Linked DNA regions of Homo sapiens: region 2 is linked to region 1. The links come from fine-mapping of genetic effects on gene expression. A gene starts in region 1. The other region holds a variant in brackets. All regions are shown on one strand. Distances are from middle to middle.

Region 1 (8,000 bases):
AAATATTAAATGCCAAATTCATATGCAAGGCATAATGATATATAGGAAGCAAAGATAAATGTTAAGACTTACACACAAAAGTAATATCACAACAGAAATAAATATGAAAGAGAAAAATAAAGACAGTAAAATAAATTTGAATAGAATACCTAAAAACAGCATCCCAATTCAAATATTTTCCTTGTTTGGAATCTGAATGCCGATCTAGATGTTTAATTGTTTCAGGATCTCGAATCAGGCGCTTAAATTTCTCAACTTCTTTCTGAAAATAAAAAGGAAATAATAATGGGTTACTAATCACACTTATTTCAAGGAAAAATTGAATTTAAGTAATTTACTACCTTTCGTTCTGTAGCTCTATCATGTTCTAGTTGACGGCAGCAGATAAGCAGATCATTAAGTACTAGACTCATGGTTCACAATTTCAGAACACACATCACTGTCTGTAAAAAAAATACATATAGGTATATATATGTATATGTATATATGCATATATAGAGAGAAAGAGGTGTGAAAAAATGTGTATATAATTATTTTATACTGCAGTATTTATAGTTAGATTTAACTGTACAATTAGAGGCACATTCTGGTCAAAGGCACAATAATTTTTCTTAACATTTCCGTATTTAAAATGAGATTTTCTTAAAATCTATACAAGTAATGCTGTAACACAAAAATGTTTGCCTTGCTTGCAGTAGTAGCAGGATTAAAATAAAAGTATAATTTACACTGGACGCAGTGGCTCACGCCTGTAATCCCAGCACTTTGGGAGGCCAAGGTGGGAGGATCACAAGGTCAGGAGTTCGACCAGCCTGACCAACATGGTGAAACCCTGTCTCTACTAAAAATACAAAAATTAGCCGGGCTTGGTGGCGCGCGCCTGTAATCCCAGCTACTCAGGAGGCTGAGGCAGGAGAATCGCTTGAATCTGGGAGGCAGAGCTTTCAGTGAGCCAAGATCGAGCCACTGTACTCCAGCCTGGGCAACAGAGGAAGGCTCTGCGGGGCGGGAGATGGGGGAAGTATATTTACTTTTTATTACTCTGAGACCAAAGAAACATGACATTTAAATTGAGACATGAAAGATGAATAGAAAACAGCCAGGTAAATAAGGAAATGAGCACTCAAGGATTTAACATTGACAATGAACTATTTAAAAGCACTCTTGGCCAGGCGTGGTAGTGTGCTCTTGTAGTCCCAGCTACTCAGGAGGCTGAGGTAGGAGAATCGCTTGAACCCAGGAGGCAGAGGTTGCAGTGAGCGGAGATCGCGCCACTGCACTCCAGCCTGGTGACAGAGCAAGACTCCGTCTCAAAGAAAAAAAAAAAAGCACTCTTGCTTATATGGAGAGACATGTCATTTTGCTGAGCCAAAGGCTTAAAACATGCTTTGGAGCTGATAAGTAGGAGGTTATCAGAGCTAGTAAGCTTTGTCTACCACTTCCATCTCAACTGGTATTAAGGTTCTTATTTAACACATAACAATAGGAGTAAAATGACATTTCTGTTTTAAAAGGAAATGAAGCAAATTCTATGCTATGGTGGTATCCTTTGCAAATATCAAGGATCAACTATATTTTACTATGCCTTGATTCCACTGAGTAGCTCTCTTCTTTTGGGGGCTTCTGATATAATCAAACTCTCTTTTGATGTCCTTCAAAAAAATGTAGTAAGAACAGCATTTCAACATGGACACAAAGATGGGAAGAACAGAGACTGGGGACTGTTTGAGGGTTGGAAAGAAAGGGAGGTATGGCTTGAAGGGCTACCTATCAGGTACTATGCTCACTACCTGAGTGACAGGATCATTCGTACACCAAGCCTCAGCAACATGCAATTTACCCATGTAACAAACCCGCACATCTACCCACAGAACCTAAAGTAAAATAGAAAAGAAAAAAAAAGAAACAGCATTCTGTTTTACTAGTTCTGATCTAAACCTTTATATAATACAAAGAAGTTTTTTATTAAACTATGAATGTCTGTAAACAGAGAAAAAATACATATATTTATGTATATTATACCTACAAATAACTATATCTCAAGAAGTAAAAAGGTAGGGAAAGTCCTTCTCCTATCCATCCATCTAAATTCTACTTAATCTTTCAAGATTAAGTATGTTTCTCTGCCCCGATTCAATCTCACAGAATCTCAAAATTGGGAGGAACTAAAAGACCAGGTCCAATCTTCCTATGAAGGAAGGAATGTCTCTTACAAAATGAATGCCCTGTCTTTGAATATTCTCAGTAAGAGCTGACTACCGGGGCTAGGCGTGGTGGCTCATGCCTGTAATCCCAGCACTCTGGGAGGCCGAGGTGGGCGTTCCACGAGGTCAGGAGTTCGAGACCAGCCAGCCTGGCCAACATCGTGAAACCCCGTCTCTACTAAAAATACAAAAATTAACCAGGTGTGGTAGCATGTGCCTGCAATCCTAGCTACTGGGGAGACTGAGGTAGGAGACTCACTTGAACCCAGGAGGCGGAAAGTGCAGTTAGCTGAGATCACGCAATTGCACTCCAGCATGGGCGACAGAGCGAGACTGTCTCAAAACAAAACAAGACAAAAAAAACAAAAAGAGCTGACTACCCATTTTATTAGCAGATGGCTCTGATTCTCTTCTCCTTTTATATTCACTGGTGGTTCTTCTGACTTCCCCCATCCCCCAACACTATTACAACTTCCGCTTTACTCTGCTATAGATTACAGATTGTTATTTGAGTTCTTTTCATTTGATTATATACTTCCTGTGGACAAGTATTATCATTTTTGTTTTTCCATTCCTTATGGTTTTATCTAGGAATCTTCTTACTTCTTCAATCTCAGTTTAAAGCCCTCTTGAGTCAATAAGGAAAATGAAACTGGTAATCTAACCAATGAAAATACCTTAGCAATATCCAAAGAACCATAAGGTTTGGCACCTTTATTCCTAAATATACTAAAGATTTGACACTTCCCGGAAGAGGCAGCCCTAAACTTGACTTTTTTTTCCCCATGGTGTGACTTCCTTGAACTTGTTTTTCTTACCTTCAGCTTAATGATTACTTTGAAGAAAACAAAACAGTTCAGTATTATCTACATAAACAGAAGATGCTCATTCACTGATAGATGCAAACAATATTTACTACTTATAGCTAGACAAATAATGAACTAAACAGATACAAATCCTACCCTCATGAAGTCATATCTGGGCAGCAGGGTGACAATAAACAAGTAAATTGATAAACCAATGCATAATTCCAAATTGTGATGTATGCCTCTGAGGAAACAAAAACACAGTAATAGAAAATAACTGTAGAGAGAATCATTTTAGATAAACTGTCAGGGAACATATATCTCAGAGGAGTTTATAATAAAGCCAAGATCTGAACTAACTGGTGCCAATCAAAAAAAGGGCTAGAGGACCAACACTTCAGGGAAGGAGACTAGCATAGCCAAAGGGTTCTACAATGTTAAAGAACACAGTATGTTGGCGGAACTGAAAGAAGGCAGAGGAACTATTAGGTAGTCAACTAGAGTATGAGTGTCACCATATAAAGATGAACTTCATTTATACATTAATCCAGAATATCTAGGTTCCACTCAAGGTTCAAACGAAAAGATAAGGATTTCCTACTTCCTACGAGCCTCTGAATTGACGAATTCAGTGTTCCTTTTTAGATCTCAACCAAGTTGACCCCTTTGCACAACTTGACAATGACGCTTATATCCCATCTTCCTAGAAATAACTCTGCCCTTGGCATGCCATTCTTTTCTAGTGCTAAGGAGTGTGGCCTCTGTAGTCAGATTGTATTAGTTCAAATCCTGGTTCAGCCACTTACAAACTGTATAATCTAGAGCAAGTTCACTAATCTCTTCAAACCTCAGTTTCTCAATGATAAAAGGAAAAACAATACTAGTACCTACCTCTATGAGTCCCTTTAAGGACCCATATACATGCTTACAGTGCCTGAAACACAGCAAATGTTAGCAATGATCATATTAACTTCCGTTATGACTGTTTCGAAAGTCTCCTGATATCTCTTCTTCCGCTCATACCTCAAAAACAGCTTTGTTTTCTTGGTCTCATCCATTCCTATGACTTCAGCAGCTGAAAACCCACAAAATATATTTCATTCAATGCCAGGCCTCACGCTGGAGCTTCAGGGTCCTTCTACACTTTGTGCCTTTACACGCATTTTTCCTTCCATCTGGAAGGCTTCTACCATCTGCCAAGGTAACACTGCGAGGTCTCACCACAAACTGAATTGATAGTCTCAGGCTGAGTTTGCAGAGAACCAAAGTCACTCCTCTACCATCAGAGTACTCCCCTATCACCACATACATTATCATCCACTGTAGTTGTCTTATCTGTACCTGGTAAATACAGCAGCTAACGCTCACGAGTGCTCACCACAGGTCAAGATTATCTCACTTATCTTCACAAGACAGTAGAGAGCGGCCACACGACTGACAGAATTCCAATTCCAGCCGTATGATTCCAGAGCCCAAGCTCTTAACCGCGAGGCTGAAGTTGAAATATCAATAAATGCTCGCTGACTAAAAGTACTAAATACGAGAGAGAGATCAAAAGATGACTAGTCAAGTCGCGTAGTTAAATCTGAACCCTAAGGTGACACAAAAAGAGGATGCGCAGGAGGCAGGGTTCAATTCAGGGCGTTTAAAAGGAGGAGGTTATTGGCCAAGTCCGCTAAGCACCCGGAGAGAGGCCAGGAAAGATGGAGTGAGGAGAGGGAGGAGTCAAGGGCCACTCTGGAGGGGTGCATGAGATTGGCGGTCTGGGGAGAGGACAGACTGGGTCGCACACGACTGAATTTCCCAGCGCAGAAGCCGCTGCGTTGCCTCCGCGCCCCTACCACTGCACTCGGAAGGTCAAAGTAGTATCAACCGCGGCGGTGGCTGCAGCGCAGATCCCGACTCCTCTCGCCTCCTCCCGCGGCCACGGCTTCTTTTCTCCGTTAGCCACGCAGCTACCTACTCCCGCTTCCGGTTCAAACCCTGCGTGACTGCCCAGCGCCCACTTCTGGAGGAAGAAGCAACGCCAAGCAGCCGCAGAGCACGGTATGCCCATGCGCATCCAGTATCACGCGGTCTCCGCGCTCAAAACACTGCCCCAAAACATTCGGCCCGTCGGAGCAAACGCGCCTGCGCCATGTCCACCAATGGCCAGCGACTTAGCGTTTGCGGCTCGCCCTTCGGCTCGGGCTCCGGGGCTCTCACCCACCCTCTTCGCCCTCGTCGTCCTCCCCGCCCTCCTCATCCCCGCCCCTCCAAGTCTGAGGACGGAAGTGACGACAGTTCCGAAGGCGAACGGAGGCGGGTTTCATTTCGGCGCCTTTCTTTCTCTGGCGGAAGCGATTGGCTGCCGTGAAGCGAAAGAGGCGGGACAAATTGCCGCGAGTTCAGTGCCGCCACTGGAACCAGGAGATGCGGCGCAGGAGCTGTCGCTGTGTTTGCTTTAACCTGAGTCTTGTTCCTTATTGTGGTTCCTGCTGTGGTTTTGATCATGTTGTTACCCTCGGACGTAGCCCGGCTTGTATTGGGTAAGCGCGGACGCGGGATGGAGGGTTATTGGACCCGGCTATGCTGGACAGAAGGACCTTTGAGGCCAAAGGTTTTCCCTTGGTAGGGAAGCTTTGGGGTTTTGCCTCCCAGCTTACGAGTTGAGACTGGCGGTGATTCTTCGTCATTCGGAGGTTCTGGGCAGTTTAAGCCTCTTTGTATGTAGATGCTCCTCTCTTCAGAGGCTGCGTGGCGAGGGGAAGCCCGAGGGGAAGCTCGGGGTGGAACACCTGGGGCGGATTCGGAAGGAAAGTCAGGCCTCCACACTTAATTAGGACCCCTGAAAGAGCATTTGTCTGCATGACGGACGGATTGCGTGTGCTTCAACCTTGGGCGCAATTTCCTTGGTTCAGTGTTGGGACCAAAATAGGGCAAATAGGGAGTTCCCCGGCCCCCCATCTTTGTAGAGAGACCTTCCTGGCGCCCTTCTAATAACCCGCCCTTATAACTACGAATTTGGGAGTAGGGGTGATCTTCCTTCTCCATCCTCCACGCAATACGTCGTCCAGTGTAGAGGTGTGAAATGCCAGTTGCATATTTTAAAACAGCAATTCCTGTTCCTTTGATCAGCGAAAAATTTCAGAGGGTTAATTGCCTTAAATTAGTTGAACGTTTTCTAGCCCTAGTTTTACCTTCATTTGAGGAGGGATTGTTTGTGGGTCACTTGTCTGTCAGGGTGTATTGTCTGTGTGAGAGACGGGTTTTGTTGTTGTTTGTCCCCTGAAAGAATAAAGAGGATTGTACTACAGGGGACGAGAGCCAGGTAAAGCTCAAAACCCGAGCCAGTAATTTACGGACGTCGTATGCGACGTCCCTAAAAGTAAATGGCAAGCATCTGTGATGAAACCTCCCATAGTATTCACAGCCATTACTACTATTATTTTATTGTTCGGAAAACCCATTTGTCTTGTGCCTCTTTTAAATGCCCAGCGCTGTCCACAAAAATGTTATTTGCGCAGGGCTCTTGATAAGCACATTTTGCAGGAAACGTTAAACGGAAATGGTTCCACCATCCATTTTTGAAGAAACTTAATGACAAGTTTAATGTTTTGTTAATGTCTGATTAATCTTTTGCTTAAGAATTCTGAGTTTTGGCAGTTTGGTAATCTAGTTGAGTTTCGGTAACTATAGTCTTAAACATGGTTTCTCAGCCTCAGTACTGTTAACATTTTGGGCCTCATAATTCTTTATTGTGGGGAGCTATCCTGTGCTCAAACATTGTAGGATGTTTAGCAGCATTCCTGGCTTCTATTCACTAGATTACAGTAGGACACCCGTTCCCCACCCTACCCTTACCCAGTTGTGATCAGTGAAAATGTCTCTAGATATTGCTAGTATGTCCCCTGGAGGGCAGAATCACCCCTAGTTAAGAAAGCCCTAAGAAAGCAGTATCATTTTCTAATTGAAATAATTCACATCGATGTGTGAGTATTCTTTCTCCACAAACCAGCTACTCTGCTGACTTCCTGCTTTTCATTTAATGGACAAAAAACGCCAGCCATGGTTTTCTTATCTTAAAAATCTTTGTCATTCACATTCCATTTTCACTGCCACCAATCCCGCAATGTGCCTGCCATTACTTCTCTTTTGGACTTCTGTCATGGCTTCCCAGACAGTTGTCCTCGCAATTCATTTTATTTACTGTTGTTACAAATCTCCCTGAAGCTTTCACACTATACCTTTTAGTCTGAAAGTTGAGATAATTCTATTCTTACTAAAAATTTCAGATGGGCAGGAGTATACAATACAAAAAAGCCTCCCCATGCCTAATGCTCTTACTTTTGTCGTTTATCATTTTACATCTTAAATAGATACATATCGTGTATATCTTTCTCATATGAGGTTTATTATTTACTCATGATTCTTTTCCTATCAGTACCCCCTCGCCATCTTCAGCTCCTCTTGTTATTGGTCCCTTCATAATGTTTTTTTTCTAGCAAATCTTTGGGTGCCTAGTATGTTCCAAACACTGTGCCAATTGCTGAACATAGAGAAGTTAAGTTTTCTCCCCTTAGTGTTCAGATAATTAGGTTTTTTTTAAATTCTTAAACATACACACAAAAAAACACTTTTCTGGACCCCACTAGACATTAGACACCCATTAAACAGAACATTCTGTCTTATGTTCTGTGTCACCCTTTCACAAGTCAAATTTATTCAAAGAACAATGAATTCCACTTAGTTGCTGTTCTTCACCTACCTTTTATCCTTCAGGATACTGCACTCTGACTTTTGCATCTCACTACTCCACTTAAGTAGCCCTTATTGCCTTGCTGGGATTTTACAAAATGTTGTGTGGGCCAGAATACATCAAAGTGTTTGTTGCCTCTGGGCCATCAGTTCAGTTTTTATCTATTTATTCAAGGTGCTCTGTGGAACTGATCCTACCTACCTCTCCAACTTGATCTCAACTTCCTAACATCTGTTTTATGCTGCAGACATG
Region 2 (8,000 bases), 24 kb before region 1:
AACAAACAAAAAAAACAGCAGCATGCTAATGAACTTAAATTACCTGTGAAGAATTGGAGGCACTTCTGTGCTATTTTCTAAGTCACCCTCTAACTGATAGAATAAGAGCCATTTCATTATTGATTCCTTTAAAGAAAAGCTTCTATTTACTTCACACATATTTTGCTCTATTCCCATTTTTACCGTTCCTGGAACTATACTGGTGGTCAGTGCCAAAGTCAAACAGCATACTGCAGGACTATAACAAAACAAAGGACAATTGTGAAAAGCAAGCTATTGGAGGGGCAAAGACTTTATCTATCAGGACAGTGCCTGGCACATACATTTAGTTAAGGTGACTAAATGAACATAAAAACTGTTAAAAGTCTGATTACATTTGGGAAGATTCTTGATTAAAAAATAGCTCGTTTATTAACAGTGCATAGTACTACAATTTAAACATGGCTATTTAATAAATAATGATAAATTGCACATAAAAGAAATTTAAACTCTTCATAATTCTTTAAAGAAAGTCTTTTGGATACACGTATACAATTAGAAGGAATAAGACCTGGTGTCCGATACATCAGTAGGGTGACTACGGTTAACATTAATCTATTGTACATTTCCAAACAGCAAGAAGAGAATAATTCAAACGTTCCTAGCATGAAGAAAAGATACGTAGGGTGCTGATATCCCATCACCCTACATGAGTGTGTCATATGAGTGTGTCAAATTATCACATGTACCTTGATAATATATAACTCTATTATAGATCAATTAAAAATTTTTTAACTAAAAAAGAAATTCCTTAACATTAGTCTTTAATAATTTGTCAACATTTGAAACTAAATTCACTTATGCATTTATTAAGTCTTCTCGGCCAAACAAGAAAAGCATCTGAAATAGAATTTGACATCTTTAACTGAAGTAACAAACTATGAAAATGATCAGGGATATGTGAGTGTGTGTGTGTCTGTGTGTGTTTATCTGTAAGTCAGACATAATGCATGCTGAACTTACCATGAAGGTCTGCAGGCTGACCCAGTAAATAACTTCCAGAATTCTCTGTCAACCTCAACTAAACTACCCTGAATTATGGCTCCAAGTAAGCCAAAGTTTTCAGCTTGTATTTGCTCAGAACTTATACCACGAAAGGTAATACACCAAATTTTATTCCAGAGTTTTAATAAATCTGACTTTTGTGAGCTTTCTAGGTTTGACCTCTTGTCTTGACACAATGCAACTTCCGTAAGGCATCGTAACACATATGGTGTACGTTCCCCATGTCGCTGTTGGGGTAGAAGCTGAGATAGTATCATCAGTAATGGAGACAGCTCACAGTTAGGTAAACTTGCAGGATACTTTGATATTAATTGGGTTGCAATCTGTAGCCTAAAAAAAAAAAAAAAGGATAATTTGAAAACTATTCCATCACATTAACAAACTAAAAGGAAATATATAGACATGGTACTCTTACAATATCCTAATTAGAGAATCACCATCATTTCCATAGTACTCTAAAAATAAACTGGCTGTTAATAGTTACTATGTCCTACTTCCTAAATTGGCAGGAAAATTGTCAACGTTTGGCTAGCTGGGTAAGCTGTTAAGTTTCCCTTAAACAAATATTTTAAAGGATATTAAATTAGCAATATTTGGGCCAGGTGGTTTCCCAGCACTTTGGGAGGCCAAGGCAGGCAGATCACGAGGTTAGGAGTTTGAGACCAGCCTGGCCAACATGGTGAAACCCAGTCTCTACTAAAAATACAAAAATTAGCCGGGCATGGTGGCACATGCCTGGAATCCCAGCTACTCAGGACGCTGAGGCAGGATAACTGCTTGAACCTGGGAGGTGGAGGTTGTAGTGAGCCAAGATTGTGCCACTGCACTCCAGCCTGGGTGACAGAGTGAGCCTCCGTCTCAGAAAATATATATATATATATATATATATTTAGCAATATTTTATTTCTGAGTTATCTTGTACATCCTTGCTCTTTAGTCACCAAACGATTCCTCTAAAACAGGAAAACAAAGAAACCCAAAAAACTGTTTTTCCTTTACATTAATTCAGTTAATCCAATAAACATTTGCTGTGTATTCTCTAGAATGTGTGATACTTAAGAATAGGAGTCTTATGTTATTCATCTCTGTATATCTAACGCTTAGCCCATAACAGGTGTTCAATAAATTACTCTTGACTAAAAGGACAAATTAAGAATCTTAAATAGCTACTCTTAACTATATAAAAATGAGCTTAAGCAATAGGTATCTAAATCAATATGCTTTTCCCCAGAAGTCACTTACACTTAAACATTCCATCAACATGGTAATCAAAAGAGCACTGATCACGAGTTTGACTATAATCTATAAATCTCTGTCCCTACAGAAGTTGCTTAACCTCTCTGGGTTTCAGTTTCTTTTCAGTAAAGCAAACAGGCTGAACTAGATAAATTCTAAACATCCTTACCAGATCTAATATTTTGGGATTCCAAAGTATCCATAATTTATTTGATTACTTAAATATATGTGAACGTTACATGAGAATAAAGAAGATAGAAAATAAGAGAAAATAACTTTTTATCATGGCATAAGGTCAAAATTATTCTGTGATTTCTTAAGATTATCTTTAACTTCTTCCTAATTCTATTAGAAGGTGCTACGTATGCTAAAATCTATTGTTGAAGCGTACAATTCAGTGAATTCCATGAGGTGCACACTTCTAATTGCCTATCAGAGAGCCAGTCCTCCTTCTTAACTTGCTATGACAATATGATTAAAATAGGTGGCCCTGCACTTGGCCCAAGCAAATGAGCCATTAATGATTGATCTCATTTGTCATGGCAATCACATATCCCTTTGCTAGTAATAGGTTTGGGGGTAGACAAATGACTTAGTTCTGGTTGAGATGAAAGGATTCCACTGAAAGTTTTCTGAAAAATAACATACAAGAGATTAAAATGACACTGAATGAGAAAATGGTAACACTTTACCAAGGCACAAGATCAAAATCATTCTGTGACTTCTGAAGGTGATCTTTTATTACTTCCCAGCCTAGTTCTATTTTCTTCCTTTTGCAAGGGACACTGTAATCACTAGATTCTCTTTGTGTAGTAGTGTAAGATTGAGAAATCTCCAAGGATCTGGTATCTTCATTAAAAACCTGTA[A/C]AATAAAAATAAATCCACTTTTTTCTTTTTTTTTTTTTTGAGCCAGAGTTTCGCTGTTGTTGCCCAGGTTGGAGTGGAACAGCACGATCTCGTATCACCACAACCTCTACCTCCCAGGTTCAAGTGATTCTCCTGCCTCAGCCTCCCGAGTAGCTGGGATTACAGGCTTGCACCACCATGCCCAGCTAACTTTGTATTTTTAGTAGGGACAGAGTTTCTCCATGTTGGTCAGACTGGTCTTGAACTCCCAACCTCAGGTGATCTGCCCGCCTTGGCCTCCCAAAGTGCTGGGATTACAGGTGTGAGCCACCACGCCTGGCCAAATACACTTTTTTCATTGCTATTGTCTTCTAATATTTCATTAGGGGGAAAAAAAATTCTTTCTGAAATGAAGATACAGGGAACTCATAAAGCAAGAGTAATACATTACAGAAACATATAAATCTGATAACATAGTAAGAAACAAACATTTTGCATGACAGTAATGGCACTTTAGAAAGCAGGTATTACCAAGTAATGCATTAGTTTTATTTCCTGGGAACATTTACTAAAAGCACTAAGAAATCTAAAAGTAAAGCAAAAACCTTTACTTTCAAAGGGATTCAAGTTTTTAAATTTAAGAAATTTTAAGAAATATTAAGAAAATATTTGACAGAGTGAAATTACTACTCAGGATGTTAACCAAATCTCTGGGGAACAGAGTTTTATTTAAGAAACATTAGGCCATCAGGTGATGGATGGGTAAGTAAAATGGAGTATATCCATACAACTGAATATTATTCAGCAATAAAAATGAATGAAGTACTGATTCATGGTAAAACATGAACTTTGAAAACATTATGCTTAGTGAAAGAAACCAGACACAAAAGACTCACATATTGTATGATTCCATTTAAACGAACTGTCCCAAACAGGAAAATCCACAAAAACCAAGATTGATTAGTGGCTGGTTGCCAGGATCTAGGAGATGCAGGGAATTGGGACTGAATGCTAAGAAGGGATGAGGTTTCTTTTGGGATGATAAAAAAGTTCTGGGCTGGGCACGGTGGCTCACGCCTGTAATCCCAGCACTATGGGAGGCCGATGCAGGAGGATCACAAGGTCAGGAGTCTGAGACTAGGCTGGCCAATATGGTGAAACCCAGTCTCTACTAAAAAAACAAAAATTAGCTGGGCGTGGTGGCAGGCACCTGTAGTCCCAGCTACTCGGGAGGCTGATGCAGGAGAATCACTTGAACCCGGGAAAGGGAGGTTGCAGTGAGCGGAGATTGTGCCACTGCACTCCAGCCTGGGTGACAGAGCAAGACTCCATCTCAAAAAAATAAAAATAAAATAAAAAAAGTTTCCAGAATTAGTGATGATGGTTGTACAACATAGTAAAAATACTAAAAACCACTGAAATGTACAACTCAAAATCGTGAATTTTATGCTATGTGAACTCTAGCTTAATTGCAAAAAAGAAACAGACTGGGCTTGGTGGCTCATGCCTGTAATCCCAGCACTTTGTAGAATACAGTCGAGTCGAATCGAATCATTAGGGTTAGGGTCACCTTATTTCCTAGAGACAATCATTTAAGAATGAAAAAGTTCATTGTTAGTTTTCAAATATCTGCAAAAGCATTAACTTTTAAGTTAAAAGGGTAATTCCAAATATTTCTGATAGTTTGAAAGGAATAGTTGCATGTACAGAGTCATTTTATAGGCTTTTTGTGAGAACACAGGTTTTAAAAGCCCAAAATGCCCAGTTTAAAAAAAAAATTAACAGGAAATTTCTAAATGTGACATGACCTACTTACTGTACCTGGTGACAGATATCTGCCATCAATTCAATCAAATTTTCTTTGACGGCAATATTACGAAATCCTGAAGAATACTTTCCTCTACTTCCTATATGACTTATCTCATTCACTAGCAGATCATATAAGTTGTATAAAATACTTCTCCATTTTGTTGATTCATAAGCACCTGTAATCCAAAAAATTAAAATGTAATTTTTATGTATGTACTCTGTTTACACTGCTAGCTCCCACAAAATTATTCAGCTGTCAAGCTGCATCAGCGTTAGAAGACACCTGGTCCAACCTTCCATTCAGTACTAATGCCTCTTCTGACAAGATCCTTGACAAACTCTATTTCATAACTGTCCATTTTACATTTAGATAACTGTGTTTCTTATAAATTTCTTCCATATTCTGACCTAAAATCTGTCTTTCTCCAATTTATTCTCCCACCTGAGGCAAATACAATTAATATGTTCCCTCTTTCATATGAGGACCAAGTTCTCCGTATGCCTTTTTCTGGCCTAAGAGAAAAATATTACGAGTTCCTTCAACTAGTGTAAAAATGACATATTATTCAGACTTCTCACCATTTCAGTCATCTTTCCCAAGACACATTCCAGTCAACTTAAAATGCTGACTATACAAAATCTGGTGAACATGGTAATCCAACTGTGGCTTGACTAGTATGCGAAACAAAAGGTCTATTATTTCTCACAAACAAGGTACTACAAAATCTATTAAAGTAGTCTGAAACTACATTAGCTTTTCTGGCATCCTCATCATCCTGCCAATTTTAAATTCACCCTAAATATGCAGTTAACTAAATCCCTAAACATATCATATCACCTCCTAATAAGCCTGATCTTCATCCTGGAGATAAGAGGTGAGTAAAAGATGAAAAACTATTAAAAGTCACTATTCTTTCACTTATAGTAGTTTCATGGGCTACATATTATCTAGATATACTTATTAGAAGAGCCCATAAAACAAATACACAGCTACTTTTGATAAAAAGTGGCTACACGGCCGGGCACAGTGGCTCATGCCTGTAATCTCAGCACTTTGGGAGGCTGAGGCGGGTGGATGGTTTGAGGTCAGGAGCTCAAGGCCAGCTTGGCCAACATGGTGAGACCCCATCCCTATTAAAATACAAAAATTAGCTGGGCATGGTGCCAGGCATCTGTAATCCCAGCTAATCAGAACGCTGAGGCAGGAGAATTGCTTGAACCCAGGAGGCGGAGGTTGCAGTGAGCTAACATTGCGTCACTGCACTTCAGCCTGGGCGACAGAGTGAGACTCTGTCTCAAAAAAAAAAAAAAAAAAAAAGTGGCTACAAGACATTTCCTCCATTATAGCTGCTATTACTCAATGTGGTATGCTGTTTTAAGAAAGTCACTATACTAGCCATGATGAGTTGGTCCAAAGGCTAGTATAAGCCCAAAGGCAATCATAGACAGAGCAAGAGGAAACTCCAGTTCCAGCCAATAAAGTTCCTAACTACAGAAAAGCACTATACCTTCTGGGCAATACTCTCTTGGTATAGGACATATATGAAGGAATTAAGGAGAATAAGTGATTCTCCTTAACAAGTGATACTCTAGGGCAAACAGGGCCCTAGAGTAACTATGAGGCTTAAGGCAGCAATTTCCCTGTTTCTGCCTCAAATTCCTATTAAAGTAATATGTATGTATCTTCCTCAGGAGCTGAATAATCTGACTGGTTTTAGTCCAATTTACGTATTTTATCTTCTAATAAAAGTAATAGGTGGATAAACAAGATCCTGCTTTCTTTAAATTCTTTTGCCCTACAGTCTGTGTCAGACCCCTTAGTATCTAAGTATTGATGCATAAGTAGCTCCTAGAGGGAACAATGTCTCAGATTTTTTTGTATTTCCCATAATACCTAATATTGTATTGAACAAATAGAAAGGCATAACAGAATCTGCTACCACTGCTTCAAATTCTAAAAACTCTATGAAAAACATTCTCATGGCTAAGTAACATTATCAACCAGAGAAATCCAGAGGAAAGTCATATCCTCCTAAAGAACACTAATTTTATACTTAGACTTCTATGTTTGAATGAAGAAGCAAATTCAAAACAGTAAACATTTCCTTTATACCTTTTTCTTGGGTTTTGGCTCCTTTCGGATGATGGATATAAATTTGCAGTTGAAATAATTCAATAATGACTTCTTTTAAAGAATCATTAAGCCTATGTTGAGTCCAAATATAAAGCAAAGTGGGAAGAATTTCATCTCCTAATTCACACACTCGAATTCGAAAGTTGACAGCCAAAGTCTTGAGGAAGATAGTAAGAGCTGCTAAGATATGATTTAGACCTGAAGAGCTCTTTTCTTGTCTGTGAAGAAACAAACAAGCTCAACTGGGTATAACAGGGGGAACAAACTGTACAAACTGAACAGTTATGAAGTGGTATGCTGAAAGAAAAAAAAACAAAACCCTAATTTTCAAACAGTAGTCTTAATTTCAAAACTATTCATTAAAAAAAAAAATCACAGCATTACTTCACACTGACAAAAAATTAGTTCTTATTTGGTGTTAAGAGACCACTTCTGTTAGCTCTCCCTCCTGCTAAAACATTGTATAAAAATAAACAAAACTGATTTGTAACACCATTTATAAAATGTTTCACATTATACATTGAGTACTGCCATACTAATGTACAACAGTAATACTTCCAAAATATTTTCCTATTTTATTTTATTCTCGGTATATTAAAACCATCCTCAAAATGGGGGAAATGCAATGACTTAGAGGATATTTAACTTTCCTGGTCAACAGAACATCAGCAAGACACATCTCCCCCTTGAAAACTTCACGTAGTGTTCTGCATATTGGATATTCAGAAAGTGTTGGACTTGGTTGTCTCTTTAGGAATCCACTAGTTCTGTTATGATGGATCAATGTTTTATTTTAAGGTAGAATTTTTAGTTACTGAGTCTAAAACATGGTCTTGCAAGATCAAAAGTATTTCAATACAAAACAAAAGAAAAAGAGATTAGATTACCTCGCACACTGAATAGCCTTGGAAAAAAAGTCCAAAAATTTGGA

The links. PIP is the estimated chance that this variant, and not a neighbour inherited with it, causes the effect.
Region 2: its variant is fine-mapped to the expression of ATM in whole blood (TOPMed, PIP above 0.99).

Annotation. Positions count from the first base shown.
Region 1 is chr11:108,220,038-108,228,037 of GRCh38, reverse strand. It overlaps ATM (ATM serine/threonine kinase), which reads right to left and starts at 4,971. Exons shown (of 63, transcript NM_000051.4): 1 at 4,852-4,971; 2 at 342-443; 3 at 150-262. The coding sequence starts at 413. It overlaps NPAT (nuclear protein, coactivator of histone transcription), which reads left to right and starts at 5,400. Exons shown (of 18, transcript NM_002519.3): 1 at 5,400-5,538. The coding sequence starts at 5,502. RefSeq lists enhancers at 2,469-2,588, 4,085-4,134, 4,485-4,564, 4,875-5,034, 5,445-5,504.
Region 2 is chr11:108,244,075-108,252,074 of GRCh38, reverse strand. It overlaps ATM (ATM serine/threonine kinase), which reads right to left. Exons shown (of 63, transcript NM_000051.4): 6 at 7,957-8,000; 7 at 7,049-7,287; 8 at 4,948-5,111; 9 at 2,973-3,142; 10 at 1,003-1,374; 11 at 44-238. Among named protein-coding and RNA genes, the nearest start is that of ATM, 25 kb to the right of the region's middle. The variant A/C (reference allele first, on the strand shown) is at 3,148.